Linked DNA regions of Homo sapiens. Changing the gene in region 4 together with the main gene of any one other region gives a genetic interaction. Each region holds a gene or a part of one and is shown on either strand. Other genes may lie near its edges. The genes, in order: GNB5, RNF135, PTPRS and ASPM.

Region 1 (7,765 bases), on a different chromosome or scaffold from region 4:
GAAGAAGATAATCACCTATAATCCCACCACTCAGAGAAACTTCTTTTTACATTTTGGTGTAGCAAGAATAGATTTGAGACCACTGAGGTCATACTGTTCATGTATACTGATTACATTTCTGTATCTTGATGTTTTTCACTTAGTATTTGTATCAGCTAAATTTTAGTACTTTGTTGTACTTATTGTCAATATCCTTTTTATGATGAGAGAATTTTTCACAGCTAGAGCCAATGTTTCGATGAGCATTTTGACAAGAAAGACAGAAATGCCCCATTTAACAAATTTTGACATGAAGTTGCTCTGCAGTAGTTCATAGAACTTCTCAAACCTTCCCCTAATAACTTTATGCCAAGCACAAACTTTCTTTGATATCTGTTTTACCTAAATATGTGACTTAAAAAATTACCACAGAAATACGTGTTTATTTTAAAAAGAACCAGTACCAAAGATGAAAAAGTAAAACTTGAATCCCCCATCACATGCCCTGCATTTTCACTGCCCTTAGTTTGTTGTTTATTCTTCCAGACTTTTCTGGCACAAACACATAGATACAGCTTTGGTAGTCATGCAAATAGGGCTACTTGCTTTCTTCATCTAACTTATTCTGTTAACACTTATAGATCAACCTTGTTTGGTAATAGGTTCAGCATTATTCTATGCTGTGGAGTGTCATAATTTATTAAACCAACTTCCGTGTTTGGATACATAGGGTATATCCAGTTTTTACTTTTAAAATACTGCTTCATTAACTCAATTAAAAATGGACAAAAGGACCTTCATACATTGCTGGTGGGAAGGTAAAGTGGGGTAGCCGTTTTCCAATGGTGCAGCTGTGGAAAACGGTTTGGCAGTTATTCAAAACTTAAATATACAGCTGTTACCATAAGACCCCGCAATCCTACTTCTAGATATATACCCAGGATACTTGAAAATGTATGTTCACTGGCTGGGCGTGGTGGCTCATGCCTGTAATCCCAGTACTTTGGAAGGCCCAGGCGGGTAGATCACCTGAGGTCAGCCTGGGCAACATGGTGAAACCCCATATCTACTATACAAAAATTAGCCAGGCGTGGTGGCAGGTGCCTGTAATCCCAGCTACTTGGGAGGCTGAGACATGAGAACTGCTTGAACTTGGGGGATGGAGGTTGCAGTGAGCCAAGATCGCGCCACTGAAATCCAGCCTGGGCAATGCAGTGAGACTCCGTCTCAGAACAAAAAAAAAGAAAATATATGTTCACATAAAAATGTACATACTAATTTTCATGGCAGCATTATTAGCCAAAAGTGAAAGCAACCCAAGTGTCCACCAACCGACAAATGAAAAACAAAATGTCTATCCCTCCAGTAGACTGCTATTCAGCAATAAAAAAGAATGACGTTCTGACACATGCTACAACATGGTCAAACCTTAAAAACGCTATCCTATGACAGAAGCCAGACACAAAAGGCCACATATTGTATGATTTATTTATATGAAGTGTACAGGATCAGCAAATCCATAGAGACATGAAGCAGATGAGTAGTTGCGAGGTGGAGGGAAGAGAGAATAAGGGGGAAGGAGGGAGCTGAGAGTGAGTGGCTGCTTAAGGGGTATGGGATTTCTTTTTCGGGGTGATGAAAATACTCTGGAGTCAGTGGCAATGGTTGCAAATCCTTGTAAATAAACTTAAAAAACACTGAAATATATGTTTTAAAATGATGGGTTTTAAAACATGAAACAAAACGTGGACATCATATCTCAATAAATTTTTTTTTTTTTTTTTTTAGACAGAGTCTTGCTCTGTCGCCCAGGTTGGAGTGCAGTGGCGCAATCTCGGCTCACTGTAAGCTCCGCCTCCCAGGTTCATGCCATTCTCCTGCCTCAGCCTCCCAAATATCTGGGAATACAGGCGCCCGCCACCTCACCCGGCTAATTTCTTGTATTTTTAGTAGAGATGGGGTTTCACCGTGTTAACCAGGATGCTCTCAATCTCCTGACCTCATGATCTGCCCGCCTCAGCCTCCCAAAGTGCTGGGATTACAGGCATGAGCCACCGCGCCCAGCCCAAAGATTATTTTTAAAATGGACAAAAGGCTTGTGTAGTCACTTCACAAATGAGGATACTTATATGGTCAATAAACATATAAAAAGGTGCTCATTATCATTAGTCATCATAGAAATACAAAGTAAAACTACGATGTGATACAACTACTTAGCCATCAGAAAACCTAAAAAGCCTGACAACACAAAGTGTGGGCAAGGATGCAGAGACTGGAACTGCCTTTCTCTGCTAGTGGGAGTATAAGTCGGTATAACCACTGTAGAAAACTGGTTGGTAGGAGCTACTAAAGTGAAACGGATATAGTCTATGACCAGGCAATTCTACTCGTGCATACATACACCACAGAAAATAATGCTTATTTCCTTAAAAAAAAAAAAAAAAAAAAAAAAAAAAAAAAAAAAAAAACATAAATGTCATAGCAGCTATTCATAGAAGGCCTAAACTTGAAAGACCCAAATGTTCACCAGTCACAGACGAAACTGTGAAATGAGCATAGAATAAAAAATAACTGATACACACAATGTGGATGTATCTCAGACTTACAACTAAAAACCTCTTTCTAACCCCATAAGCTGTACTCAGAGGCTTATGTTGCCATGTGTCACCTGGATCAAATTTTAAAACTGACTTAGTGATTTTAAGTATGCTTAATCTCTTTCCTGATGCCAATATTAATGTAAAAAATATTGAAATATTTCAATTTGAAATATTTGAAATTTACTATTTCAAAATAAATTCATGTGTATTGTAGAAAAATTAGATTCTACGGATTAACAACAACAAAACCCCTCACCCATGCTCCCACCGCACAGAAAGACCTGCTAACACTGTGCCCTGTACTCATCTGGATGCTTTTCTGAGCATTTCAAAAGCTGGAGTATTTTAACCGAATGTCAGCATGCACATACCTTCCAGAGTCAGCACTGGGAGCCACAGAGCAGATGGTGAGAGGTGAGGACCAGCGCGCAGCTTGAGGTGTGAAGCACGTCTCCCACTGGCTAATCTCCTTATCTTCTCTGGAGTGCTGCTCAGCTTGCTTCCTTCCTCCACAGCACTTCCATGCTCCCTGCTGGGCACGCACTGCCATCTGCATCCCTCACTCACCCCTGGAACCTGCCCAGCCCCTCTGTGGAGGGAGGCCTTGGCAGGTTTGACCTCTGTGTCTGCGCCCACTCACTGAGCAGCCCTCACATTCACCTGGGCCACATGTTCTTAACATTTCTCTATTTTGGTCTCCTTGCCACTGTCAGCTTTGTAGAACTGATCAAGACTGTGGGATGAGTGCCTCCCTTTCCCCATTTTTCCACACATAAACTCCTCAGCCTCCACAGGTCTCCCTGTCCCCAAACATGACCTACTTTTTCCCATGGTTGACTCCCCACCACACACACACAGTCCTCCAACGGGACTTTGCTCCTTCAGTTCTCTTCCCACCTCATCAGCAGTAGGATGAAGGCAGGGATGAGGAGGATGTGGCACCTGCCCTCTGGGGCTCACAGGCCTACAGAGGAAATGGGCAGCATTTCTGGCTTCCAGTCCAGGGTAAGTGCTATAAAACAGGCATAAATCCTGAGTTATGGAAGCCGAAAACCAACAGTGATGGCTCCTCATGGTGTGGGGAAGGTCTAGAAAGGGCATGGAGGCCGCAGCTCAGGATCAGAAACCCTGCCAATTCTCTGCCAAGTAGCCCCTCATTCTGACAGTGTGGAAGCGCCCTGGAGACACAGCCTAAGCCAGCACTTATGACATATTTACTTCTTCTCTAAACATTTTAATATACTTTAAATGAGATATTATGAATCTATAAAGATTCTAGCATCTTTCAGTATGACCGTAAAGAAAGGCATACAACTTGTACACTTAAGAGACATGTCATCTCCTCGCAATGAAAGAATCTGACCCAATTCATTTGGTAATTAATTTTATTGATTAAAGTATTACAAAGTTCTACTTTTCATTTTTTCATGTACAATGTATTGAAATGAACTAAACTCAATCACTTATAATATAAAAAGACATTATTATGTATTAGCAGGGTGATGCTTCATAATCATGTATTATTCCTACCTCTAAGACACCAGTCTGTATTATAGAATCACAGCTGTCACCTGTGACTGTCAGAAACAGAAGGTGCAATTGGGATTCTTAGGTTGGTGACAGAATAGCACTGGATCCACAGGCCAGAGACTAGGAGTGCTTATCAAATGAGGTTTTAGGCTCTGAAAGGAAGGAATGAGAAGGTGTGCCGGGACAAGGAATAGCCAGTTCCCATAAAACTTGGGAAACGTAGATTTCTCAAAAGTAGGGTCCGACACAATTTTTTAGTTACTTTTTGAGAAAATTTAAAAATAAATACATTGAAATGCTGATTAGAGAGCGAAAGTAATTTAGGTTGCTTTTTCAATCTGAGGTTGTTTTAAAAAAGTTATTGTATGAAAGGTATTAAAAAATAAAAAAATTATGGTGAATATGTTGGCAGGTAAGATTTGAAGTTCTTTCAGAGAAGATAAACGGCATGGCAATTAAGCTTTAATAATATATTAGTTTTAAATAGATATACATATAAAAATACTTCAAATGATTCATCTCGGATTGAACACTCTTAAAAATTAAAAGGGTCAGCCGGGCGCGGTGGCACACGCCTGTAATCCTAGCACTTTGGGAGGCTGAGGTGGGCGGATCACGAGGTCAAGAGATCGAGGCCATCCTGGCCAACATGGTGAAACCTGTCTCCACTAAAAATACAAAAATTAGCTGGGCGTGGTGGCAGGTGCCTGTAGTCCCAGCTACTCAGGAGGCTGAGGCAGGAGAATTGTTTGAACCCAGGAAGCGGAGGTTGCAATAAGCCGAGATCATGCCACTACACTCCAGCCTGGCGATAGAGCGAGACTCCGGAGTCTCAAAAAAAAAAAAAAAAAAAAATTTAGAAGGGTCTAAAATAAACATTTTTAAATGCAGGGCATTTTCAGTAAAAAGAGTTCATGAAAACCTTCTGTCCCCAGCAGGCATGGGGCAAGAGAACTTTTGGCAGGTCACGGTGGCCAAACGGGATTTTTTCCTGGAAGACTCAGCACTAGAATCCACTTGCAGCTTTGTAAATGTACTCAGGTTTCACATGAACCTTAGAAAACTTGGAAGCCACTGTGTCCCCAGATCTCACTCCCTCCTGGTAGAGCCCTGCCACAAGACAGAACAGATCAAGAGGCACGTGGAAGAAAATATGAGCCCTCCAGGAATTTCAGTGAAAACCAGCTGAGATTCGAGAGTGAGACATGGCTTTTCCAAATACAGCTGGTGTGTGTGAATTCTTACAAAATTACAGGAGCAGCATTGTCACTGTGAGTGAGAGATGATGTGGTCCATTTGAGAAAAGTCTGTTTTCTTCCTTAAATCACATTCCAATTTCCACTGCCAATTAATAAAACACATCCCTCATATTGAACCTTCACTTAGCTTTTGAAGAAAAAGTGCATTGACTTTTTCTCCTGCTATAACCTATTCAGAAAGCCTAGCTTGAAACTGCTGGGGATCTGAATCATTTCCAGAGCATGTGGAGAGGGGGTAAAAGGAAATGTGACTTGAAAGAGATATTTGGTATCCAACATCAGCTGTGATGAATCCTCCCGGCTATTTAGGAGAGCCTGAAATTAGAATCAGAGGAAAAATGAGTAAGGAAACTAACATGTTCTGCTTTACTGCTACCTGAAAGTCAAGGCAAAACACAGCTATCTCTAGTGGAGAGCTCCTTGCACCATCACATGAAATGACATACATGAGAACTTTTTAACAACAGCACAATTCCAAAGTCTATCCAGGGCTTCCAGATCAGCTCTCAGAACAATTAACTTGTCCTGTTTCACTTCAGAAGTTAATTTCCCATGGGATGAGTTGACCATAAATCTGTTTTCTATTCTAATCTATTCTCATGGCATAATTCTAAGGTCAAACATGAGTAGATTTCAAGTATTACATTTTTATTGAACCCATCTTTCTTCTTCATTCATGGGTTTGCAACCTTTTTGGTCTCAGGACCGCTTTATACTAAAACATGACTGAGGCCCCAAAAGCTTTTGTGTATATGGGTATATTGGCATTTGCCATATTAGTAATTAAATATACATTGTGTATATGTGTATATCGGTATTTGCCATATTAGTAATTAAAATGATTTATTAATTCATTAAAATAAGCTCTACACATGTTAAACATAAGTTTCCAAAACAAAGAAAATTTAGTGAGAAGTGGTATTTTCTATTTTTGCAAATCTCTTTCATGTCTGACTTAATATATTATCATATATAACCATATATTATATACGCCATATTTTAATATATATGCTATATTATCATATATACGATATATCATATATATCTGCTTCTGCATTCAATCTGTTGTGATATGTTATTTTGGTTGAAGTACACGAAGAAAATCCACAGATAACTATTGAGAAAATCCACAGATACCTACTTAGAAAATCCACAGGTACATATTTAGAAAAAGGAAGAGTTTTGCAGACCCTCTTGAAAGTGTCTCAAGGACTCCCAGGGATCCTTGAGCCAAACTTGGAGAACTGCTGCCCTAGAGTTCCTTAGGGGACAAACTTTAGGGATTATATAAGAAAAAATGGTTATACAAATGATTATAAAAGAAAAATGGTCTCTGTTTCCATTCAGCCTCTGCCCACTTGCACAGTATTCAACGATCAGTAAGAAATAAGATATATTGACAGAATACAGCACGGGAGACATGATTTTGGTGCTTTCATTCCCCTCCCACCTGGACTAAGGTGGATTCTGAAAATTTCACAGGAAAATTTCCTGCTTACCTTTGAGCTGGGTGCCTTTCATTTGTATATGTGGGTAAATGTACTTTAATCCTGGATTTCTATAATGTTAATTAAGTATCAACATCTTATACCATAGTTAGGAAGTAAAATTAAAAGGCACATCCTTAAGAATCTCACCTGTACTTTGCGAACAAAGGATGGAGTCACTCTCTTCTCAAAGTCATCTATAGGTGTGTATGAATTAAGGATCTTTATGATCTGCAAACGGTACATAACATGGTGTTAGACCATGCAAAATAATAACTCTGTTCATAAAATAATGGTTCTGGTTATTGGGAACCATTGGGAAGCACAGGTGGTTCTTTTAGCCTATAATTTGGTTCAGGAACTGTATGTTACCTATTTCCAAGAAAAGAAAACAAGGGGAGAAAAGTGCCTTAGGGAGCAAAGGCAAATCAGATAATCAGAAAACAGTAAGAGGAGCCCCCTTCTAGCCTCCCCACCTCCCACATGGCCACCCCTCCACATACACATTTGTGAGTTTAATGGGCAGGGAATGAATGCATCATAGACATTTGTGTATATGTGTGTGTGTGATTATTATTATTATTATTTTTGAGATAGGGTCTCCCTTTATTGCCCAGGCTGGGGTGCAGTGGCATGATCATGGCTCACTGCAGCCTCGAACCCCTGGACTCATGCGATCCTCCCGCCTCAGCCTCCCAAGTAGCTGGGACCAAAGGTGTGTGCCATCACACCCAGCTTTTTTTTTTTTTTTTTTTTTTTTTTTTTTTTGGTAGAGCGTCTTGTTATGTTGCCCAGACTAGTCTCAAACTCCTGGGCTCAGGCAATCCTCCCACCTTGGCCTCTCAAAGTGCTGGATTACAGCTGTGAGCCACCTCGCCCAGCCCATTTCTATGTTTTTAAGACCTAGTGT
Region 2 (6,848 bases), on a different chromosome or scaffold from region 4:
TTCTAGAGATGGGGTTTCATCTCTAGATGAAACTTTGGCCTCCCAAAGTGCTGGGATTACAGGTGTGAACCACATGCCTGGCCCAGCCAAATGATTGTTGACAAGGATGCCAAGTCTAATCAATGGAGAATAGACTCTTCAACAAATGGTACCAAGACAATTGGATTTCCACATACAAAAGAATGAAGTTGGACCCCTAATTCACACCATATACAAAAATTAACTTAAAATTGACCAATTACCTAAACGTAAGCTAAAACCATAAAACTCTTAGAAGAGGCTGGCACAGTGGCTCATGCCTGTAATCCCAACACTTTGGGAGGCCAAGGTAGGCAGATCACTTGAGGTCAGCAGTTCAAGACCAGCCTGGCCCACAGTGAAACCCCGTCTCTACTAAAAATACAAAAATTATCCAGGTGTGGTGGCAGGCGCCTGTAATCCCAAATACTTTGGAGGCTGAGGCAGGAGAATTGCTTGAACCCGGGAGGTGGAGGCTGCAGTGAGCTGAGATCGTGTCACTGCACTCCATCCCTGGGAAAGGAGCGAGACCTCGTTTCAAAAAAAAAAAAACTCTTAGAAGAAAACATAGGGGTAAATCTTCATGAACTGAGATTTGGCAATGGATTTGTAAATATGACAACAGAAGCACAAGCAACAAAAGAAAACAACAGATAAAAATTAAATTTAAAACTTTTGCACATCAAAGGATACCATCAAGAAAGTGACAACGCTTAGAATGGGAGAATATATATTTTATAATATATCTGTGAGTCATATCTAATTTGATATCCAGAATATAGAAGGAATCTCTAAAACTCAACAACAAAAAGATAAACAACCCAATTTTAAAATGGTCAAAGGACTTGAATAGACATTTCTGCAATGAAGATCTATAAATGACCAACAAGCACAAGAAAAGATGGGCAACATCATTAGTCATTAAGGAAATCCAGATCAAAATCACAGTGAGGCTGGGTGCGGTGGCTCACGCCTGTAATCCCAACACTTCCGGAGGCCGAGGTGGGCAGATCACAAGGTCAAGAGATCGAGACCATCCTGGCCAACATGGTGAAAACCCGTCTCTACTAAAAATACAAAAATTACCTGGGTGTGGTGGTGCATGCCTGTAGTCCCAGCTACTTGGGAGGCTGAGGCAGGAGAATCACTTGAACCCAGGGGGCAGAGGTTGCAGTGAGCCAAGATCATGCCACTACACTCCAGCCTGGCAACAGAGCAAGACTCCATCTCAAAACAAAACAAACAAAAAAAATGTGGCACATCCACCCAATGGAATATCATTCAGCCCCATAAAAGGAATAAAGTTCTGACACATGCTACAACATGAATGAACTTTGAAAACACTATGCTAAGTGAAAGAAACCAGGCACAAAGGGACAAACATTGAACGATTCCAGTTATATGAAATATCTAGAACAGGCAAACTCAGATACAGAAAGTAGCTTAGATGTGAGCAGGGGCTAGAGGGAGGAGAAATGAGGAGTTACTGCTTAATGAGTACAAAGTTTCTGTTTATGATGATGAAACAGTTTTGGAAACAGAAGTGATAGTTGCACAACAGGAAATGTAACTAATTTGTCACTGAATTGTACACTTAAAAATGGTTAAAATAGGCGGGGCGCGGTGGCTCACACCTGTAATCCCAGCACTTTAGGAAGCCGAGGCGGGCAGATCACGAGGTCAGAAGATCGAGACCATCCTGGCTAACAACGGTGAAACCCCGTCCCTATTTTTTAAAAAAAGAAAAAAACATACAAAAAATTAGCCAGGCGTGGTGGCGGGCGCCTGTAGTCCCAGTTACTCGGGAGGCTGAGGCAGGAGAATGGCGTGAACCCGGGAGGCGGAGCTTGCAGTGAGACAAGATGGCGCCACTGCACTCCAGCCTGGGCCACAAAGCAAAACTCCGTCTCAAAAAAATAAAAGGTTAAAATGAGGCCAGGCGCTGTGGCTCATGACTGTAATCCCAGCACTTTGGGAGGCCGAGGCGGACGGATCATCTGTGGTCAAGAGTTTGAGACTAGCCTGGCTAACATGTCGAAACCCCGTCTCTACTAAAAATACCAAAATTAGCCGGGCGTGATGGCGCACGCCTGTAATCCCAGCTACTCTCGAGCCTGAAGCAAGAGAATCACTCGACCCTGGGGGGCGGAGGTTGCAGTGAGCCGAGATCACGCACGCCATTGCACTCCATCCAGCCTGGGCGACAGAGCGAGACTCCGTCTCAAAGAAATAAAGAAAAAGGTTAAAATGGCCAGTTTTAATGTTATATAGATCTTACCACAATTTTACAAGTTTCAGAGAAAGAGACCGAAGATCGATTGGGAAGAAGTTGAAATATGCCAAGCTGTGTAACAGCTAAGTTGACAAGCTTTCGGAAGATGGGGAATTTGTTTTTTTCTACTTCTTCATACTTTTATGAACTTTCCAAAGTGCCTCCGAAGAGCGGAACTCGACTTTTAGACTGAGAAAAGGAACGTAAAAGTAGAACGGCTGAGGAAAGGGGTTCGAGCCACATGGGAAAGGGTCAGGCGGCGGGCAGCCCGGGGGAGCCAGGGGAGCTGCGGGCCCGGCCTCCCTACCCGCTGCAGTTCCGGGCGGCGCCGGGGCCTCGCGGCCGCGCTGGAGAGGGAACTGGAGCCCGGGCAGGGGCAGTGGGCAGGGTCGGAGCCCGCCTGTATCTCGCGTGCGGCGCGGCGGTACTTGTCGGCCAGGTCCTGCAGTAGCGTGTTCTTCCGCAGGTGCGGCTGCTGCGCGGCGCCCTGGCGGCAAGTGGGGCAGGCCCAGCGGCGGGCGTCGCGGGCGCCCCACAGGGCCTCCAGGCAGTGGCGGCAGAAGCTGTGGCCGCAGGGCAGCGTGGCGGGCCAGTCCAGCAGCCCCTGGCAGATGATGCAGCCGAGGTCGTCCTCGGCCAGCCACACGGGAACGGCGGAGCCCAGGCCCAGGCCCGCCATGGCCAACAGGCGGCCGGGGCGCGGACGTCGGGGTTGAGCCGGGCGAGTCTCCTCAGGCTCCTCCCTCGCCCTTCCTCTTCCCCTTGCCCTCCTCCTTTTCTCGGCCGCCTTTTCTCCTCCTTCCTTGGCGCCACCCCGTCTCCTTCCTCCGATCCTGCTGAAAACAGACTTAGAGCCTCCAGTGCCCAGCTGGAAAGACAGAGCTGACCTTCAGTGGCGGCCTCTTGCCCTGGGAAACCAACATGCCGCGAGCTGCTAGAAACCCGCGGAGGTCTCCAAGATTCCCTTTAGCTGGATGTCCCTCCATTAAGATGCAGCACCGTTGGATGTCTTCGTCCGTTGGCTTAAAAAAAAATAAACAACAAAAAAGATGCAACACCGACAACTCTTGGGAGGAGAGGACTCCATTCAGCAGCTTATTTATGAGAATGAGCCCACGAAGTGTCATCCAGCTCCTCTAACAAGTAGCAGGGGATTAAAGATCACCGATGCACAGCCACAGGGAGCGTCCTCAAAAATGCTGATGTTCGGCCCCGCTCGCAGGGAGTCTGATTTCATTGTCTTGGGTGGAGCACGGGTATTTTGTAAAACCTCCCCCAGGTGATTCTGACGCGCATTCAAGGTTGAGTGAGCGAACCCTTGGCTTTTTAACTCGCAGGTATAATGCAGAGTTGTGCGCTGTGTCCTTACCGCCTTCTGCGGGATGTAAGCGCGTTTCCCAACAGACACTCGGACAAAATTCTAGAAAGTGTTTTCCTGAGAAGGCTCACTCACTCACTCACTTCGCATCCCAGTCCTAAACGCATTGCAACCAGAAAATGTTAGAGCTAAAAGAGCACCACGTCCTCCCAGATGACCCAAAGAGGTTAAAAAAAAAAAAAAGAGAAAAAAGAAAAACTTGCAGGCTCTCATGGTAACAATGAAGCGTCAGAGACTAAAACCCACAACTCCCCAATCTGTTGAAATGAACTAACAACGTCTCATGCTTTACTTTATCCTTTCTGGCCTGGGCTCAAAGTAGGTATCAGATAATACAAGTTTGTAGCCGACCTTTGGATCACTTGAAGTCAGGAGTTCAAGACCAGCCTGGCCAACATGGTGAACCCTCATCTCTACTGAAAATACAAAAAGAAAAGAAAAGAAAAGCCAGGCGCCCTGGCGCATGCCTGTAATCCCAGCTACTTGGGAGGCTGAGGCAGGAGAATCTCTTGAACCCGGGAGGCGGAGGTTTCAGTGAGCCAAGACTGCGCCACTGCACTCCAGCCTGGGCGACATAGGGAGACTCCGTCTCAAAAAAAAAAAAAAAAAAAAAAAGAAAAAAAAGAAAGAAAAGAAAGAAAAAAAAGCGTTTGTGGTTATTTCTAATACTGGAAGTGTCATGGAGTAGGCAGCGCTGCTCATCAACGTTTCCAGTGCTTTCCCTTTCTGGGCACATGGTAGGACTGGCACTTCCCTGACCCACTTGAAACACACAGAGGTAATATGTTACTTCCCACCAGCTTTAAAGGCGACTGAGCCGGCCATTGTATCCCTTTCTGCCAGCTGCCCCAATTATGGAGATGAAACCATCATCCGGTGACCTGGGTCACTGAGTGGCTAAGATGAGCAGACTCCCTGCCAACGCACCCTAGGATACGTAGTAAGAGGGAGAAGAAAACTAGGATGTATTCAGCTTACTGAGATTTAGTGGGTGTGTGCTGCTACAGCATAACCTAGCCTATCCTGACTGATGTATTACCTGGATCTTGTTCTAGAATCTCCGCATCGGAGTAAAATCGTAGTTTCTAAGAGCCTCTTTTTTTCTGTAAAACGGGCATGATACTAAACACTTAAACATGCTCAGATCTTCCAACTTAAAAAATGAAATCACTGGCGGGGCGTGGTGGCTTATGCCTGTAATCTCAGCACTTTGGGAGGCTGAGGCAGGTGGATTGCCTGAACTCAGGAGTTCGAGACCTGCCTGAGCAACATGGTGAAACCTTGCCTCTACAAAAAAAATACAAAAACTACCTAGACATGGTAGCGCAGGCCTGTGATCCCAGCTACTCAGGAGACTGAGGTGGGAGGATTGCTTGAGCCAGGGAGGTGGAGGCTGTAATGAGCCATGAGATCTCAGGAGGTCAAGACTGTGGTTAGCTGTGATCACACCACTTCACTCCAGCCTGGGGAAGGAGCTAGACCTAGTCTCAAAAAAATTAAAAATTAAAAAATAAAATAAAATCACCTTTGACCTGAGCCTCCCTGGAACCAGCTCTCCTCTTCTCCATTTCACAGCCAAGTTTCTGGAAAGAGTGAGTTAACCAGTAGTTTTCAAACTTTTTTCTTGGACACGCCCTAAAAGTTTTATGCAAAATCATGCAGTGGTTATAAGAAAGGGGGAAGTGGGGGCCGGGCGCAGTGGCTCACGCCTGTAATCCCAGCACTTTGGGAGGCTGAGGCGGGCGGATCATGAGGTCAGGAGATTGAGACCATTCTGGCTAACACGGTGAAACCCCGTCTCTACTAAAAAATACAAAAAAAATTAGCCGGGCGTGACGGCGGGAGCCTGTAGTCCCAGCTACTCAGGAGGCTGAGGGAGGAGAATGACCTGAACCCAGGAGGCGGAGCTTGCAGTGAGCTGAGTTCGCACCACTGCACTCCAGCCTGGGCGACAGAGCAAGACTCTGTCTCAAAAGAAAAAAAAAAAAGAAAGAAAGAAAGGGGGAAGGGGGAGAGTGGTCAGCTCTGGTAGTAAAAATATATTAGCAAATTCTTCATTTATATCAGATTTTTTTTTTTTTTGAGATGGAGTCTCACTTTGTTGCCCAGGCTGGAGTGGAGTGGAGTGGCACAATCTCGTCTCACTGCAACCTCCACCTCCCGGGTTCAAACCATTCTCCTGCCTCAGCCTCCGGAGTAGCTGAGATTACAGGCGCTCGCCACCATGCCCGGCTAATTTTGTATTTTTAGTAGAGATGGGGTTTCCCCATGTTGACAGGGTTTCTCCATGTTGGCCAGGCTTGTCTCGAACTCCTGACCTCAGGTGATCCGCCCACCTCATCCTCCCAAGTGCTAGGATTACAGAGGTGAGCCACCGCGCTCAGCCTACATCAGACATTTTGTCATTCTTGGCCGAGTGCGGTGGCTCATGCCTGTAATCCCAGGACTTTGGGAGGCCGAGGCAGGCGGATCATGAGGTCAGGAGTTCGAAAAATACAAAAAAAAATTAGCTGGGCGTAGTTGCAGGCACCTGTAATCCCAGCTACTCAGGAGGCTGAGGCAAGAGAATCATTTGAACCCGGGAGGTGAAGGTTGCCATGAGCCAAGATGGCACCATTGCACTCCAGCCTCGGCAACAGGGCAAGACTCCGTCTCAAAAAAAAAAAAAAAGAAATTTTGTCATTCTTTTATCTTTCTGAACTTGTATTTCCATTCCATTTCCTCCACAGAATTACATTCCAAAGCAATATATTTCATGCATGAAAGTCTTTTATCACTTTGTAATACTTCTCTACAACAAAAGTATGTATGTGTATTAAATTTTTAATTCTTCTTAACTTCCTGTGACAAAAAGGCTCTTGGTAAATTTTTTCCCCTGGATTTAATTATCAATATAATTACTATTAGCAGTCAAACAAAAGAAAAGTATGCTGCAATTTATAACTTTTATATAAATAAAATAACTTTTAAAGACAGTAAACATTTTATTGGAATGATAGCTATTAATAAGACAGATGGGCTCATTTCTTTCAAAAATGCATTTATGCCCAGGCACGGTGGCTCACATCTGTAATCCCAGCACTTTGAGAGGCCAAGGTGAGCGGAACACTTGAGGTCAGGAGTTTGAAACCAGCCTGGCCAACCTGGTGAAACCCTGCCTCTACCAAAAAATACAAAAAT
Region 3 (7,302 bases), on a different chromosome or scaffold from region 4:
TGGACTTGTGTCTCCAAGCAGGGTCCATGGACACTGGACGATGCCTGAAATCCCCTGGGAGGCAGGGAAAAAAGGCGCACTGAACGCTCAACCGGGGTATAAGGAGTGATTTTTTTTTCTCTGCTGGCAGCAGGCAGGAACCTGGGGTTTGAATGTCCCCTTCTCTGTCGCCACCTCACGCAGACTTCAGAGGCTCTCAAGGTTTCCTGGAGAGGGGGAAATCGTCCCCGGAGCTGACCTGCCAACCAGTAGCACCCTCCAGCGCCTCAGCCGGGCCACGCCAAAATGACCTGTCACCCATCTCCCGCGGGGAGTGGGGAGCGGGCCAGTCCACCGCCTCTTGGGACGGCATCTCTGGACGGCCACTGACAGTACCAGTCTCTGTCACCCCCTGGGGGGTTAGGGGCAATGTCATCGGCCAGGGTGGCAGAAATAGAAAAGTGCGTGAGCTCACCAGGCAGCCTGGGTCTCCTGCGACGTTTTGTTTGCCTGAGCCCAATTAGAACAACTCTCAGGATGATGGAGTATGGCGGGCGGTGGCCCCCAGGGGGCTGGGAGGCCTAGCCCCCATGCAGAAGTGCACCGTCATGATGAGGGTGTCCCCCGGGCCTGGGGAACAGGGCAGGACCCTGCTTCCCGGAGGGAAATAATGAAGACTCCGCCAGCCTGCCAGCCAGAAAGAGATGCCCCACGGAAGGCTTTGTGGAGGGCAGCGGGGGGGTAGGGGAGGGATGCCCAGGTGGGGACTCAGTCAGGCCCAAGCTGGGGGGCTGTGGGATTTGAGGGCGGGAAGCAGCCGCCCCCAGCCCCAGCTGCCTGCCTTCCACCGCCAAAATATCAGCTGGCAAAGAAAGAAGAGCAGAGGGACAGAAGGCAGGCGCGATTGGCAGGGGGAGGGGGGCACAAAGGAAGGGACCCTGGGAGGGGGAGGGGACTTATGCAAATGGCAGATTCGACCAAGTCCCTGGGCCATTAATAAACGCTCCAGCAGCTGCCGCTGGTATCGCAGGAGCAGAGGAGCGGGATGGCTTCCTTCTCCCGGGCGAAAGGCGGCAGAAAGAGGGAAGAAGGGCGCCCCAGACAAAGAGGCGCCGTCACCCTCTGCACCCCAAGGACAGCAGCGATAGGGGGCCACCCAGAGGAGGCCAGAATCCCAGCAGCCAAAGTCCGGGTGGTGGCGGACGGGAGCCCGGAGCGTGTGGGTCCCTGTCCTTGGGACCCTAGGGGTCTCTTCCTGCCTCCTCCGGCTTCTAGGTATCATCCCTGCTGCTCAGCCGGGACTCCGACACCTCGGACACCCGCTTCACTAGCCGCGGCTGCCGGGATGTGTTTTTAGGGTCTCGGCCAGAGGCAGGAGGACCCCATGCTCAGAAGGGGGCTCCCCTAGATTGTGACGGGGGGGGACAGGGGAATCCCAGCTGAGCCCAGAAGGGGGAGGCAAGGCACCCCCAATGAGGCTCTGGGAGGTTTGTTAATTTGGGGGAATGAGGTCCCAGGAGGTGGCTGGATTTGAGGAAGGGTTGCAGAGGAAGGGGCGTTCTTGGAAGCTGCATATTTAGGGAGACGAGAAGACGATTTGAGACTGGGGAAAGAGGGTCAACCGAAGAAGGAGGTCCCAGATTTGGGGCGGGGGGTGTGGCTGAAAAAAAGATTCCCAGTTTGTGGGAAAGGTTCCCTGATTTGAGGATTCTGGAGAGAAAGCGGCCGAAGGGGAGTTCCCCAATTTGGGAAGGGGGGGAATTGGTGGGAAATGTCCAGGATTTGTAGGGGGAGGTCCGAAGGGGAGGATCTTAATTTTAGGAGAGATTCCCATAAAGAGAGGTGAACTTGGCCGCAACCTGGCCGAACCCTCGCACCCACGGCGCGGGCACTCTAACCTGGGGGGCTCCCCTCAGGGCACGCCCCGCGCCCCCTTTAACCCAGTGCCGACGGCCCCGCCCCCGGTATGACGTCACCTCCCCTCCCCCCGCAGCCCCCGGGGGCTCCCGGGGCGTGCGGAACCCGCGGGGCTGGCGGTTCCAGGGGCGGCTTCCCCACTCTCGGGATCCCCACGGGGCCCCCAGCGCGGAGGGGAGACTGGGGTGCTGGGCGTGCGCGTCTGCCTGCCAGAGCCCCTGGGGCTGGGGGCTGAGGCTCGCCCCTGGGTGGGGAGGCTGGAAGGGGGCGCCGAGGCCGCAGAAGGGTGGGGCAATGCCCGAGTGCCGGAGGGGCGACCTCCCATAAGGCAACGACAGGGCCCGGAGTGTTCCAGGGGAGACGGCGTAGACTAGGGGGTCTCCAGGGGAGGGAGACCCGGAGAGGGAAGGCGGCGGGCGCAGCAGCCCTGGAGCCACCCCGCCTGGAGCCACCCGTCCCGGCTCCTCTCCGCTCCGGGGCGCCCGCATGCCCCCCATCCCCCGGCACAGCGCCCCCTGCCTCCAGGACCCGCCCGGGGACCCGGGCCGGGCGCCGCCGGGGCCGGCACCGGCTCCGCACACACGCGCGCCCCCCTCCGCGCCTCTGCCCCGCCCGCAGCCCGGGGTGGTGCAGCCGGCGGCGCTGGGCAGCTTCCAATGCCGCGCTCTGGGCGCTTCCAGCCCAGCCCCCTCCCACGCCGCGGACGAAGCCCCCCCAGCACCCCCTGCCGAGCGCCCCCAGCGCGGCCCCGGCCCTGTCCCTCGGGGCATTGTCCGGGCGCAGCTACCGGGGCGCAGCGGCTGGGCGTGCAACTGGCTGCAGCCGAGCATCCTCCGAGCACAATGGCCGTGCAGGCTTCCCCGGCACAAAGCCGGCGCGCTGCCCACTCGGCTGCCTCCGAGACCCCCCTTGGAGCGCCTGCATTTTTTTTTCCTCTAATCCATGATTTTATTTTTTTTTTTGGCTTTACCTGGAGGCTGGCTGGGCTGGGCTCCCCCGGCTCTGCCCCGCTTCACATCGTGGCTGTTGCATGGGATCCGAGCGGAGCCCGAGCGCCAGCGGCTCGCGGCGTGCGCGCGCCGGCCGGGCTGCCGGGCGGGCGGCGCGAGGACACTCACTGCGGCTCGCGCTCCCCTAGCTCCCGCTCGCGCGCCCCCCCAGCCGGTGACGTCATCCCTTCCGCCAGCGCCGCCGCCGCCGCCGCCGGGTCGGGGGCAGGGCCGGCCCGTGCGCGTCACTGCGCAGCCGCGCGGCCGCCACGCCCCCCGGCCAATGGGACGGCGCAGCGCGGTCACGTGGCTCCGGGGTGTTTAAAGGGCCGCGGGAGCACGTGGGGCGCGGGGCTTCGCGGGACACGTGGGCGGCTGGGGTGGTGGTGGTGGTGGCGGCTGCGGCGGCGGCGGGAAGGGCCCCTGGGGCTACTGTCCGTGCGGGAGCCCCAGCGTCCTGGGTGCAAAGGGCATGGCACTTTCTGTGCGCTGCCCTAAACTGTGCCACGGCTCCCCAGTACCCTTGGAATAAAATCCCGCCTCCTCTCTGCAGCTCGCCGTTTCACATTAGCGCCCACTACCCTGTCCCCTCCCCCCCACCATGTCAATGATCCAGAAAAACCAGCTGCTCCTTCTTTGCTTTTTCAGAGATGGGGTCTGCCACCTGGGCCTCAGTACAGTGGTATGATCATAGCTCACTGCAGCTTCAAACTCCTGGGCTCAGGTGATCCTCCCGCCTCAGCCTCCTGAGTAGTTGGGCTCGGGTGATCCTCCCGCCTCAGCCAGCTTCTTACAGTTCCTCTAACTTGAGCATCCAAGAACTTCCCCTTCTCATCTTTCCAATTTCTGCTCAAATAAGCAGCGCCTGGGAGAAGCCCTCCCTGACAACAGCTACCAGCCACGCCCCACTCCACTCTATCCCATTATCCCGGTTTGTTGTTGTTGTTGTTGTTTGTTTGGTTTTGAGTCGGAGTCTCACTCTGTCGCCCAGGCTGGAATGCAGTGGCGTGATCGCGGCTCACTGTAACCTCCGCCTCCTGGATTCAAGCTATTCTCCTGTCTCAGCCTCCGGAGTAGCTGGAATTACAGGCGTGCTGTCACCACGCCTGGCTAATTTTTGTATTTTTGTTAGAGACAGTGTTTCACCATGTTGGCCAGGCTGGTCTTGAACTCCTGACCTCAGTGATCCGTCCACCTCGGCCTCCCAAAGTGCTGGGATTACAGGCGTGAGCCACCGCGCCTGGTCCCATTATCCCGTTTTTATTCTAGTTACACTACAGTGTGGCTCCAGAGATCCCTATTGTAGGTTGAACACATGAATGAATGGATGATGGAGCACTTCTTATAGAGTAAGCACTTTACACAGGTCTCACCTAATTACCATCCCCTGCTTCCCTGGAGTCAGGACGAGCCACAGTTGGAACCCAGCTAAAACACTGATTTGCTGTGTGAGGCCCGGAGCCTCACTTTCCCCATCTGTAGAATGGATTTGCCTCTGGATCTCAGCTCTCATCTGTAAAATGGGGCAAGGTAGCCCCTGCTCCTAAGGAGGGTGTGATGATGAATTGCTATAATGTGGCAGCCTGGCTGCCATTGGTGCCTGAAGATGGAATAATAAGAGAAAAGAGGCCGGGCCCGGTGACTCATGCCTGTAATCCCAGCACTTTGGGAAGCCAAGGTGGGCAGATCACTTGTCAGGAGTTCGAGACCAGGCTGGCCGACATGGCGAAACCCCATCTCTACTAAAAATACAAAAATTAGCCGAGCGTGGTGGCAGGTGCCTGTAGTCTCAGCTAGTTGGGAGGCTGAGGCAGGAGAAACTCTTGAACCCGGGAGGCGGAGGTTGCAGTGAACCAATATCACACCACTGCACACTCTAGCCTGGGCGACAGAGTGAGACTCTCAAAAATAAGGAAAAAAAACAGAGCGGAAGTAAATAAAAGGGGGATATTGACAAAGGTAAGGGGGTTGGAGGGCTCACAGCCACCAAGCAAGATTGCACATCAGTCCTTGTGTTTTGATCATGTCGAAAGCATTTATTTCCTCAAGGCACATATTTGGAGAAGGCCTGGTGCCCAACAGAGGAACTCAACTTTAGAATTGGTTTTTTTTTTCCTCCAAAATTGTTGATTCATTCATTCCAGGCCACAGATGCAGATAAACAAAAAGCATTAACCCGGGGAACAAAACGATAAGGCGGAAGTCATAAACAGGAGAAAAGAGAGGAGATAATGAATAATTTAACAAGGAACCTAATTTAAGCTTGGAGTTTCCCAGCGGCCAGTGCAGCAGCCACGTTTGCAGAGCCTACTTTGTTTTTCTTCCTGGTGGGGTGACCCTGATCTGACCGTTTACAATCTGGCCTCAGTTTTCTCATCCAAGCAATGGGAACACGATCCCATCTTGAAGGATCAAATGGGGTGGTCTGTGCACAAATGCTTAGCGTGGTTTCTCACGCACAGTGGGTGCTGAAGCCTTGGAGAATTGGTGGAGACACAGTAAAATGAGATGGCTGATCGTGGAGGGGCTGATCATGGCACGAACCCCAGCCCAGTGACCTGTTTGGGAGGTGACCTCAAACAAGTGGCCGCAACACTGTAAGCCTAGCTGTCCCCATCTAGAAAAGGGGGACAACCACTAGTACCTCTGAGGGATTTTGTGAGCAGTCAAAGAAAACAGATTAAATACATCAAAAACAGAATTAAAATACATTGTAGCAGCTGGGCGCGGTGGCTCATGCCAGTAATCCCAGCACTTTGAGAGGCCAGGGCGGGTGGATCACCTGAGGTCAGGAGTTCGAGACCAGCCTGGCCAACATGGCAAAACCCTGTCTCTGCTAAAAATACAAAAATTAGCCAGGTGTGATGGTGCATGCCTGTAGTCCCAGCTACTCATGAGGCTGAGGCAGGAGAATTGCTTGAACCTGGGAGGCAGAGGTTGCAGTGAGCTGAGATCACACCACTGCACTCCAGCTGGGCAACAGAGTGAGACTCCCTCTCAAACAAAAAATACGTTGGCCAGGTGCGGTGGCTCACGCCTGTAATCCCAGCACTTTGGGAAGCCAAGGCAGGTGGATTGCCTGAGCTCAGGAGTTTGAGACCAGCCTGGCTAACATGGTGAAACCCCATCTCTACTAAAAATACAGAAATTAGCTGGGCGTGGTGGCGCGTGCCTGTAGTCCCAGTTACTCAGAAGGCAGGAGAATCGCTTCTACCCGGGAGGCAGATGTTGTAAGTGAGCTGAGCGCCACTGCACTCCAGCCTGGCAACAGAGTGAGACTTTGTCTCAAAAAAAAAAAAAAATACATTCCAGCATGTGCTTGGGAAACCCATCTGTTCAGGCCATGCATCCGGCCCCGCTCCCAGGTTGTTTGAAGTGCTGTGGACAACAGAAGTAAACAAAACAGTCTTTAAAATCCCTGGAGTTGGCCAGGCACTTTGGCCCAGCACTTTAGGAGGCTGAGGCGGGAGGATGGCTTGAGCCCAGGTATTTGGGACTAGCCTGGGCAACATAGGGAGACCCCGTCTTTACAAAAAGTTTTAGAAGTTAGCTGGGCATGGTGGTACACATCTGTGATCCCAGCTACCTGGGAGGTTGAGGTAGGAGGATCGCTTGGATGTGAGAGTTTGAGGCTGCAGTGAACTCTAAGCACGCCACTGCACTCCAGCCTGGGCAACAGAGCAAAAATTCCTGGAGTCAACAGTGCTGGGAGGAGATAGGAAATATCTTATTTAGAGTAAAAGCTTAAGCTCTTCCCACAGCTCACCAAGCTCTGCATAACCTACCCCCTTCCCCGCCCTCTGTCACCCTCGCTCACTCTGCTCCCGCCACTCGGGCCTCCTTGCTGTGCCTCCAACACACCAGGTAAGGTCCTGCCACAGAGCCTTTGCACTGTCTGTTCCCTCTGACCAGGATGCTGTTCCTCCTGCTTTTCTCAAGGCCAATTGTTCCTCCTTGCTCTTCGAGTCTCTGGGAGACCCTCCCAGACCATCTCACTGAGGTGACCACATGATCATCTTTACTTCAGTATCAGATTATTTATCATGATTTGGAATGATTTTATATTTTGGCCGGTTTGTGTGTTTCCTGCGTGTCTCCCTACTCTAGCTGTGCCTCAGTTTGCCTGTCTGTAAATGGGGATAATAATAATCGTGGTCCCTGCCGGGCGTGGTGGCTCACGCCTATAATCCCAGCACTTTGGGAGGCCGAGGCGGGCGGATCAGGAGGTCAGGAGATCGAGACCATCCTAGCTAACATGGTGAAACCCCATCTCTACTAAAAATACAAAAAATTAGCGGGCGAGGTGGCAGGTGCCTGTAGTCCCAGCTACTCGGGAGGCTGAGGCAGGAGAATGGCGTGAACCCGGGAGGTGGAGCTTGCAGTGAACTGAGATCACACCACTGCACTCCTGCCTGGG
Region 4 (7,675 bases):
TAGCCAAGTTTTCACAAGCTTGTAGTGGGCTCCTAACTCTGTCAACTTTTTGGGAAACACTAAATGTTTTATTAACATTCTGAATATTTGAAACCCTTCTGTTGTGACTTGTAGAGGCTGAAATTTTCTTCTTTTTAATGGTATCCCAAAGACTCCTCTGCAAAAATAAGGAAAATATACCAATTAAGTTTGTAGCTATTGAATATTAAATAAGCAATATTACTTCAAGCCTGTTATCAAAATAAGTTTTATTTATTATTAAACAATTTCTTAGAGTAAATCACAGAATGGTTAAAACATTACCTTTTTCTTTTTCTGCTCTTCTGCATTTCCTAGTAATATAGCTTGGTGTTTCAGAACATCATTTACAAGAAATGTCATAATCTCTCTTACTCGGCCTTCTTTGAGTGGTGTCCAGTTAACAGAAATAACAATTTTCTCTTTAGGCTATAATCAAAACAATACATTATATAATTACAATAGTAATTACATAATAACCAAAACACCTTATATACAACTTACAATATAGTAGGGCTTAATAATTGTTAACCAACACTCTATATACTAAACATTTAATAAATCAAATATATTTCTCCTACCCTATCTGCTTAATTATAAGAAAAAAAGTCACTAAAAATAACAGGGTTCACAACAAAATAAATAATAAAATCTTAACTGTATTAAAGCAATAGAACAGATAGTCTCTAAATCATTTTGTTTGAGTGGTTTCAAAAGATTTAATTGTACATTTCTAATTTTTAGATGTGTAGAGTACTTCTACTTCAAACACAAGGACCCTGCATTATGAAGACTTTATTTAAAAAGAAATGTAAAGATGATCAGCTAAATTCCTTCTTCCTTACAAATTCCTCTAAGGTCCACATCATCATACTGAGATTTCTTAAACAGGTATTATTGTTCCAGGCATAAGTGCAGGTATCCTGTAAAACTCATTTAATGCTAACATCCCTAGGAAGCAGGTATTATGATTATGCACATTTTACAGATGAAGTAACTAACATCCAGAAAAGTCTGCCAAAGTCACGCAGGTACCTATTAGAACCCAGGCAGTCTAATGCCAGAGTTTGGACTTTAACATCTACACCCCACACCCTGGCAGGTAGACAGAATCTGCCAAATTTAAACGCTGACATGACAAAACAAATTTTGTTTTTCAGGAGAAACAGACAAGTTTCTGTTTTAAAGGAGAAATAATATAACATCATAAACAACTAATTTTAAAAAATAAGAATGGTGCATTTTTACTCTATAAAATAGTTTATTCTAAAAATACCACAAAATTTAGTTCCACATTATAACAAAAAAGAGTAAGTTGAAGTATTATGTGGATAGAAAAGAAATCTGTCTTTCCAAAGAAAGGAAAGCAGGCAGTGATTCATGAAACAGAGGGGCGGGGTGGGTAGGTTCTGAAGTGTAGATAGATGAACCATTGGTGACACACAAGTTAAGGGACCTCAGATTAGAATCTCTTTTTTCTGCCTAATGAAGTGGTTATTAGCCTACTAGTTCAGACCTCCTCGGCTAACGGTTTTCATACTTTTGGTGATTCTACTCAATGGAAAGGTCACAGCAGTCAAAATAAAAACATAAATTCTCCAGTCTTTGGTGAAGGGGATTGGAGCATTACTCTTGCAAATGCAATGCAGTAAAAGAAAGCTACAGGAGTTCTTGAAACAACATTTATAAAATTAAATTTGATGCAGCATTAAAATTACACTTAACAGCAAAGAAAAAAAGGACTAAAATACTAAAGTGTGCATACATACTACACGTATATATTGAAAACAACTCTGAATAGGTTTTTTTGGTTTTTATTGTAGGCATTTAGCCAGAACAAAGCTCACTATTTCACCGGAAAAAAAAACCAGTTACCTCGACTCTAAGGGTACATATGGAAACTAAAATGCATATTAAGATGGCTGATAGAAATTTTAAAAAAAGCTGCTTTAACCAACCAAGGTACTCCTGTCAATCTTAAAAAAGTGTTAAAAAAGTGCATTGTCTATTAATTTAGAACGGCAAGGCTATTTCACAACGCCTTAAGTCTAGTAAAAGTGCTTGTCAATTTAACAGAGAAGTCTATATAACTTGCTCCTAAAGATGCTAAGTGCGCGCGCGTTTATGTGTTGTCCCCGCCCAAGTTAGCGTCTATCCTAGCCTTCAATTAGAGAATATATATATATATATATATATAATATTGACACATATATATATACTCACACACATGTGTATGCGTCAAGGGCCCACCCACAGTTATTGAAAAGGAACTGACTTCACTCTCTAAGGGTCTTTTCTGATTTCTTTTCCAAGAGCCACCCACAGTTATTGAGTGAAAGGGAACTGACTTTATTCTCTAAGGGTCTTTTCTGATTTCTTCTCCAATCGTCAACCTTCCTGAGGAGGGTGGCAGGAAAGATAGCGGAGAAGCAGAACACCGGCCTGGAGCACGCTCCTCCTGAGACCTACCTGCAACACGAAACAGCGCTGCGACACACTGAAGCCCAGGTCCGCGGCCGGGAAGTGGGAGATCTTCACTTCTGCCACCTCCTCGTTAGGGTTGTCTAGGGCCAGAGACAGCGTCCGTGAGGCTCCCAGGAGAACGTCCCCGAAGCAAAGGAAAGGAGACCTGCAGAAGTGGCTGAGAGACAGGACCGGCGGGGAAGACGCCTCCTCCTCGGCCGCGGGGCCCCGCAGCCCCGCGGGCGGCCTCCGCTCGGTCGGGCTCACTTCCCAGCAGCCTCGCCCCACTCGCCGGTTCGCCATGGCAGATTCGAGACCCCTCCTGGATCTCCTTGCCCCGCTCCCACGAGGCGGCTCCGGAGCGGGGATCCGGGACTTACGCTGACCGCTTCCCCTCAGGGGCGGCTGTAGAGGTCGTGGGAGTGAATTCGGCCCTTTTTCTTTTCCACTAACCTACTCCCTAGAAAACAGAAAACAAGCCCAATAAACTCGCAAATTAAAAAGAGGAGCCAAACAAGTATGGCGTTTTGACTCTGTTTAAACTTGCCGCCTCCACCAATGAGGACCTCCGGGCACCGCCCTCCTCGTCACGGGACCAATCGGTGAGCAGCATCCCCTGGCCAATGAGACGGCGGCGCTTCATTTGAATGATTGCATCCGGCCGCCAATCGCTATCTGCGGAGGAGGTGAGAACGGTAGCGGAATCCTGGCCACCGTCTAAAACCCGGGGCTTAGAATTGAAATTCGTCTTTATATTTTTGGTTGTGCTGAAGGGAAGGGAGTCACAGCATTTCCACAATACATGTAGTAATCATTGCGGTTTCCAGGAACAATCATAGATAAAACTGTTACGTAGGCAAAAATTGGTTTATGCCACTCCTCTCATATGCATACCCCGCCCAGAATTATATTAACTTTACTGTCGCGGTTTCCAGGGCTGAATGGTAGAGATGTAAAGATAATTAGTTTGTATGAACATGCTTATTTTAGTGACAACATAGCAGGGACTCAGTACATTTACATGCTGTTAATTACCTCGGGACGCTGGGAGCAAAACCAGGTAAACAAATGAAACCTGAGATTACCAGTAATTCATAAATGATTGTTTTGACTGGCAATGCCCTTCACAAATATCTTATTAGTTTTTATTTCAATTGTAGGGATCTAATAATAATTATAGCTTACATATTAGGGATTTTTTAAATTATTTATTTATTTTGAGATGGAGTCTCGCTCTGTCTCCCAGGCTGGAGTGCAGTGACGTGATCTTGGTTCACTGCAACCTCCGCCTCCCGGGTTCAAGCGATTCTCCTGCCTCAGCCTCCCAAGTAGCTGGAATTAGAGGCGCGCCTCACCACGACTGGCTAATTTTTGTATTTTTGGTAGAGAGGGGAGTTCGCCATGTTGGCCAGGCTGGTCTGGAACTCCTGGCCTCAAGTGATCCGCCTGCCTCCGCCTCGGCCTCCCAAAGTGCTGGGATTACAGGCCTGAGCGGCGCCCGACCCTAGGCTAGGGATTTTTTAAAAATCCTTTACCTATTTATCTCAACCTTTGCCTTAAACCTACGAGGTATCTCTTAGGGCGTAGGTACCATTATTTGTATCTTACAGATGAGGAATACAGGTCATACAGCTAAGTAGGAAGTGGCATAACCCAGATAGGTACACATGCCTGTAATCCCAGCAGTTTGGCCCTAGTCTTGCTCTTACCCACTACACTATATTGCCTCTAAAGGCAGTAGAAAACTTAAAAAATAAAAATAATGTCTGGATGTATGTATGGTTACACAAAACATGTAAAAAGAGAAGTCAATGGGAAATCAAAATAAGGAAGATGAGACATGAAATTATATTCAATGGTGTCCAATTTCACCTGAAGTTGGACCTTAACAATATTTAAACGAAATTTTTCCACTGGGCACGGTGGCTCAAGCCTGTAACCCAGCACTTTGGGAGGCTGAGGCAGGCGGATTCTTGAGGTCAGGGGTTTGAGACCAGCCTGGCCAACATGGCGAAATGCCGTCTCCACTAAAAATAAAAAAATTAGCCAGGCGTGGTGGAGCATGCCTGTAATCCCACCTACCCCGGAGGCTGAGACAGAAGAATCGCTTGAACCTGGGGTGGGGGGTGGGGGCAAGGTTGCAGTGAGCCGAGATCATGGCACTGAACTCCAGCTTGGGCAAGAGAGCAAGACGCTGTCAAAAAAAAAAAAAAAAAAAAAAAAAATTCTTTCATAGAGGCTTAAAAAAAAAAACAACAAAACAAAACCCTGGAGCAGAGCCTCACAAGTCATTTCCAGTTCTCCTCAGCATCTACCCCCCACGACCTCTCCATTAGCTTAGTTAGGCTCCAAAAAATAAAACTTGGACGGAGGAGAGTGCAAGATATGCTGTGGGAGGGAGGAAACAGCCTATACAGCAAAGAGTTAAAAGATTTTGACAGTCTAAGGTGGAATGTAATGGTGTTAGACCAAGAGGACAAATCATAAGGAACAATAAGGCCAAATTTATTGTCATGGGTGCACTTTACCCATTTAATTAATACAATGTCCGAAGTACCTGGGAATGGCTTTAATAGTTTAATAGGTTCACTAATTGAAAACTGAACTCAGTAGTGGTTTACAGTCAGGTAGGTCAAGGCCAGGCACGGTAGCTCATGCCTGTAATTCCAGCACTTTGGGAGGCTGAGACAGGAAGATCGCTTGAGCCCAGGAGTTAAAAACCAGCAACAAAGTGAGACATGGTCTTTATAAAAACAAAAACAAAACAGGCAGTTAGGTCAAAATGCTCAAACTACCTGGCATTCTGTACACGAAGGAGTCCAAAAGCTCAGGAAGATAGGAATGTTGGAGAAAATCTACATGTGCAACCTGCTTGGCCAAGTCACATCTAAACATGCACACCCTCCACCCATTCTCCTTTTACCAAGGTGTTGATAAATGCATTAACTAATAAAAAGGACTCCAGCATCCATGAAAAGACCTGGGTGACTATTTTTTATAGGCCAGAAATGATGATAGAGGATCAATAATGAAAATAGGTTCTCTGATCTCCATGTGAATTATATGATCCACAAGTGGTCAAAGTCGATTGGCACTTAATAGACAAGGTGGTATAGTTCTTACCACAATATGCTAATGGCAGAATTGTAATTAGAGGCAGGGATCTGTGGCAATGGCCAGTTTCTCAAGGGCCCTATAAATAAGATGAGCTATATACTATGGTGCTGCCTAACATATATAGGCAGAGAAATACCACATATGCAAAGCAAAAAACCTAACTGAAGCCAATGTTGTGGCAGTTATGCCTTTTACCCACTTTCCAAACTTAAGACAGTTCATACACCCAAAGCTCCTTGACTAGAAAGAACCCTGCAACACGAATACCATAAATCTTCTCTCAACAATTCCCCAGAGGGAACTGCAGTCATTTACCCACATGAATATGGATTGGGGGCAGGAACTTGACTTCCTAAGGGTTATTAGATAATGAGATAATAGCTCTGCCTTTCTGCTATACTCCAGAATCCTAAAATGTCACTGTGGACCACCAGACATAGTGAGAGCTTCTCAAGAACCGGTGACAGATGGCATCTAAGTCAGAATCTGTCTTACCAAGTGTCCTTTGGATCCACCCATTTCCAGAATATAAAATAGGAACACTTACTGACCACATTCTCACACTGGTTCCTAGATCCAAGGAACAAGGGCAATTATTGGAGAAAGGGCCAAGTGGAAGCCCCTGAAAATCACCATTTTCCCACCACGGCAATTCAGAGATTATTCTGAATACCTGAGAGATGTTGGGATAGTGATTTTGTCCATATACCCACTTTCTCCACTTATTTGGCCAGTGCAAAAGCCAGATAGATTCTGGAAAATGATAGTAGATTATAGCAATTAGGTGATGATGCCAATTATTACACTACAGTTTCAGATGTGTTATTTTTATACACAAATCAACATACCTTTGTCAGCTGGTTTGCAGCTATGAATCAAGCAAAATGCATTTTTCTTGTTTTTCCCCATTCATCCAGTATTGAAAAACCGAAGCACTTTGTACTTAAGTAGTGGTACAATGCTGTAGCATTACTGTCCTGCCTCAGGGCTCGTCAAATTTCCTACCTATACTGTAATATTGTTCAGAGAGACCTGGATCTTAGTATCACACTGGTCCATTATATTGATGACATTTGCTAATTAAACCTGGTGAGCAAGAAGTACTTGTCAAGAATTGTGTGAGTCTGAGATTTTATCCCTCTTGCAAGCTAAAGAGTTAGCGTGCCAGTTTCATAAAGGCCAGCAGAAAATATGACAGTTTTGGGTTAGAGACAAGACTTTATTATTCACAGAAAAAACAGTAGCTAGAGTGTCAGCATGTTCATTCACATTGATTCCTCCTGCTTCCTAAGTCTCATGGGACCATACAAAGGGCCCTTGATGGATGCCTGCACACACAGTGGGTTGTATTACAGGAAAGGAAGAGCGAATTGGAGATTTGACTGTTTTTATAGTACTATGCCTGGGCAGGGAGACATCCTATCGTCCCTCAAGATTTCTGCAAACACAATCCTGAGAAATGGCCTATGTAGAAATTAATAAGGGCTTCACATTCTTAGCATAGCCAGCAAGAATGTGTAGGCCTGCTCAGAGCCCATGGTAAGTTGCATCTCTCAACAGGAGCAAGCACTGTGGATGCCAATAATAAAACAAATGTAAACCAGATGGGACAAAGTTCAGGGTCCTATCACATCTGTAAAGTTTTTAGGGATCCAATGGTCTGAGACATGTCAGGCTATCTCTTCTAAAATAAGAGGCAACTTGTACTTTGTATCATTTGTAAAGCCTCTTTAGATTTTGGAGGCAATGCATGCATTATTAAGACACATCTCACCAAACCATTTACCTAGTAAACTCTAAGACTGACATTTTTGAGTTAGGCCTGGAACAAGTAAGATCTCTGCAGTAGGTCTGGGCTGCAATGGCCCAAAACACTCATTCCATGACAATCCAAGATGTGGAATAGAAGCTCTGGCAAGTTTCCAGAGAAGTATCACAGTACAAAATTCCAGGTTTGGAGAATAAGACTATGCCTTCCTCTGCAGAAAATCATCTATCATTTGAAAAACAGATCCTAATTATGCTATTAGGTATGGTAGAGACTGAATGCCTCATCAAAGGACTATAAGTGACTGTG

The links.
Region 1: changes in ASPM (region 4) and GNB5 together harm fitness more than expected from each alone (negative genetic interaction), as found in Homo sapiens cells (one study listed by BioGRID).
Region 2: changes in ASPM (region 4) and RNF135 together harm fitness more than expected from each alone (negative genetic interaction), as found in Homo sapiens cells (one study listed by BioGRID).
Region 3: changes in ASPM (region 4) and PTPRS together harm fitness more than expected from each alone (negative genetic interaction), as found in Homo sapiens cells (one study listed by BioGRID).

What each region holds. Positions count from the first base shown.
Region 1 is NC_000015.10:52,188,372-52,196,136, forward strand, and holds the start of GNB5 (guanine nucleotide-binding protein subunit beta-5), read right to left. Parts: upstream 3,022-7,765; 5' UTR 2,951-3,021; intron 1-2,950. Other genes in the region: MYO5C (unconventional myosin-Vc), read right to left, coding at 5,531-5,683, 7,006-7,086. UniProt on the Homo sapiens protein: Enhances GTPase-activating protein (GAP) activity of regulator of G protein signaling (RGS) proteins, such as RGS7 and RGS9, hence involved in the termination of the signaling initiated by the G protein coupled receptors (GPCRs) by accelerating the GTP hydrolysis on the G-alpha subunits, thereby promoting their inactivation.
Region 2 is NC_000017.11:30,967,195-30,974,042, reverse strand, and holds the start of RNF135 (E3 ubiquitin-protein ligase RNF135), read right to left. Parts: upstream 3,005-6,848; 5' UTR 2,970-3,004; coding exon 2,598-2,969; intron 2,580-2,597; exon of another isoform or gene 2,297-2,579; intron 1-2,296.
Region 3 is NC_000019.10:5,337,798-5,345,099, forward strand, and holds the start of PTPRS (receptor-type tyrosine-protein phosphatase S isoform 1 precursor), read right to left. Parts: upstream 3,016-7,302; 5' UTR 2,867-3,015; intron 270-2,866; exon of another isoform or gene 1-269. UniProt on the Homo sapiens protein: Cell surface receptor that binds to glycosaminoglycans, including chondroitin sulfate proteoglycans and heparan sulfate proteoglycan.
Region 4 is NC_000001.11:197,143,654-197,151,328, forward strand, and holds the start of ASPM (abnormal spindle-like microcephaly-associated protein), read right to left. Parts: upstream 3,017-7,675; 5' UTR 2,785-3,016; coding exon 2,488-2,784; intron 448-2,487; coding exon 304-447; intron 158-303; coding exon 1-157. UniProt on the Homo sapiens protein: Involved in mitotic spindle regulation and coordination of mitotic processes.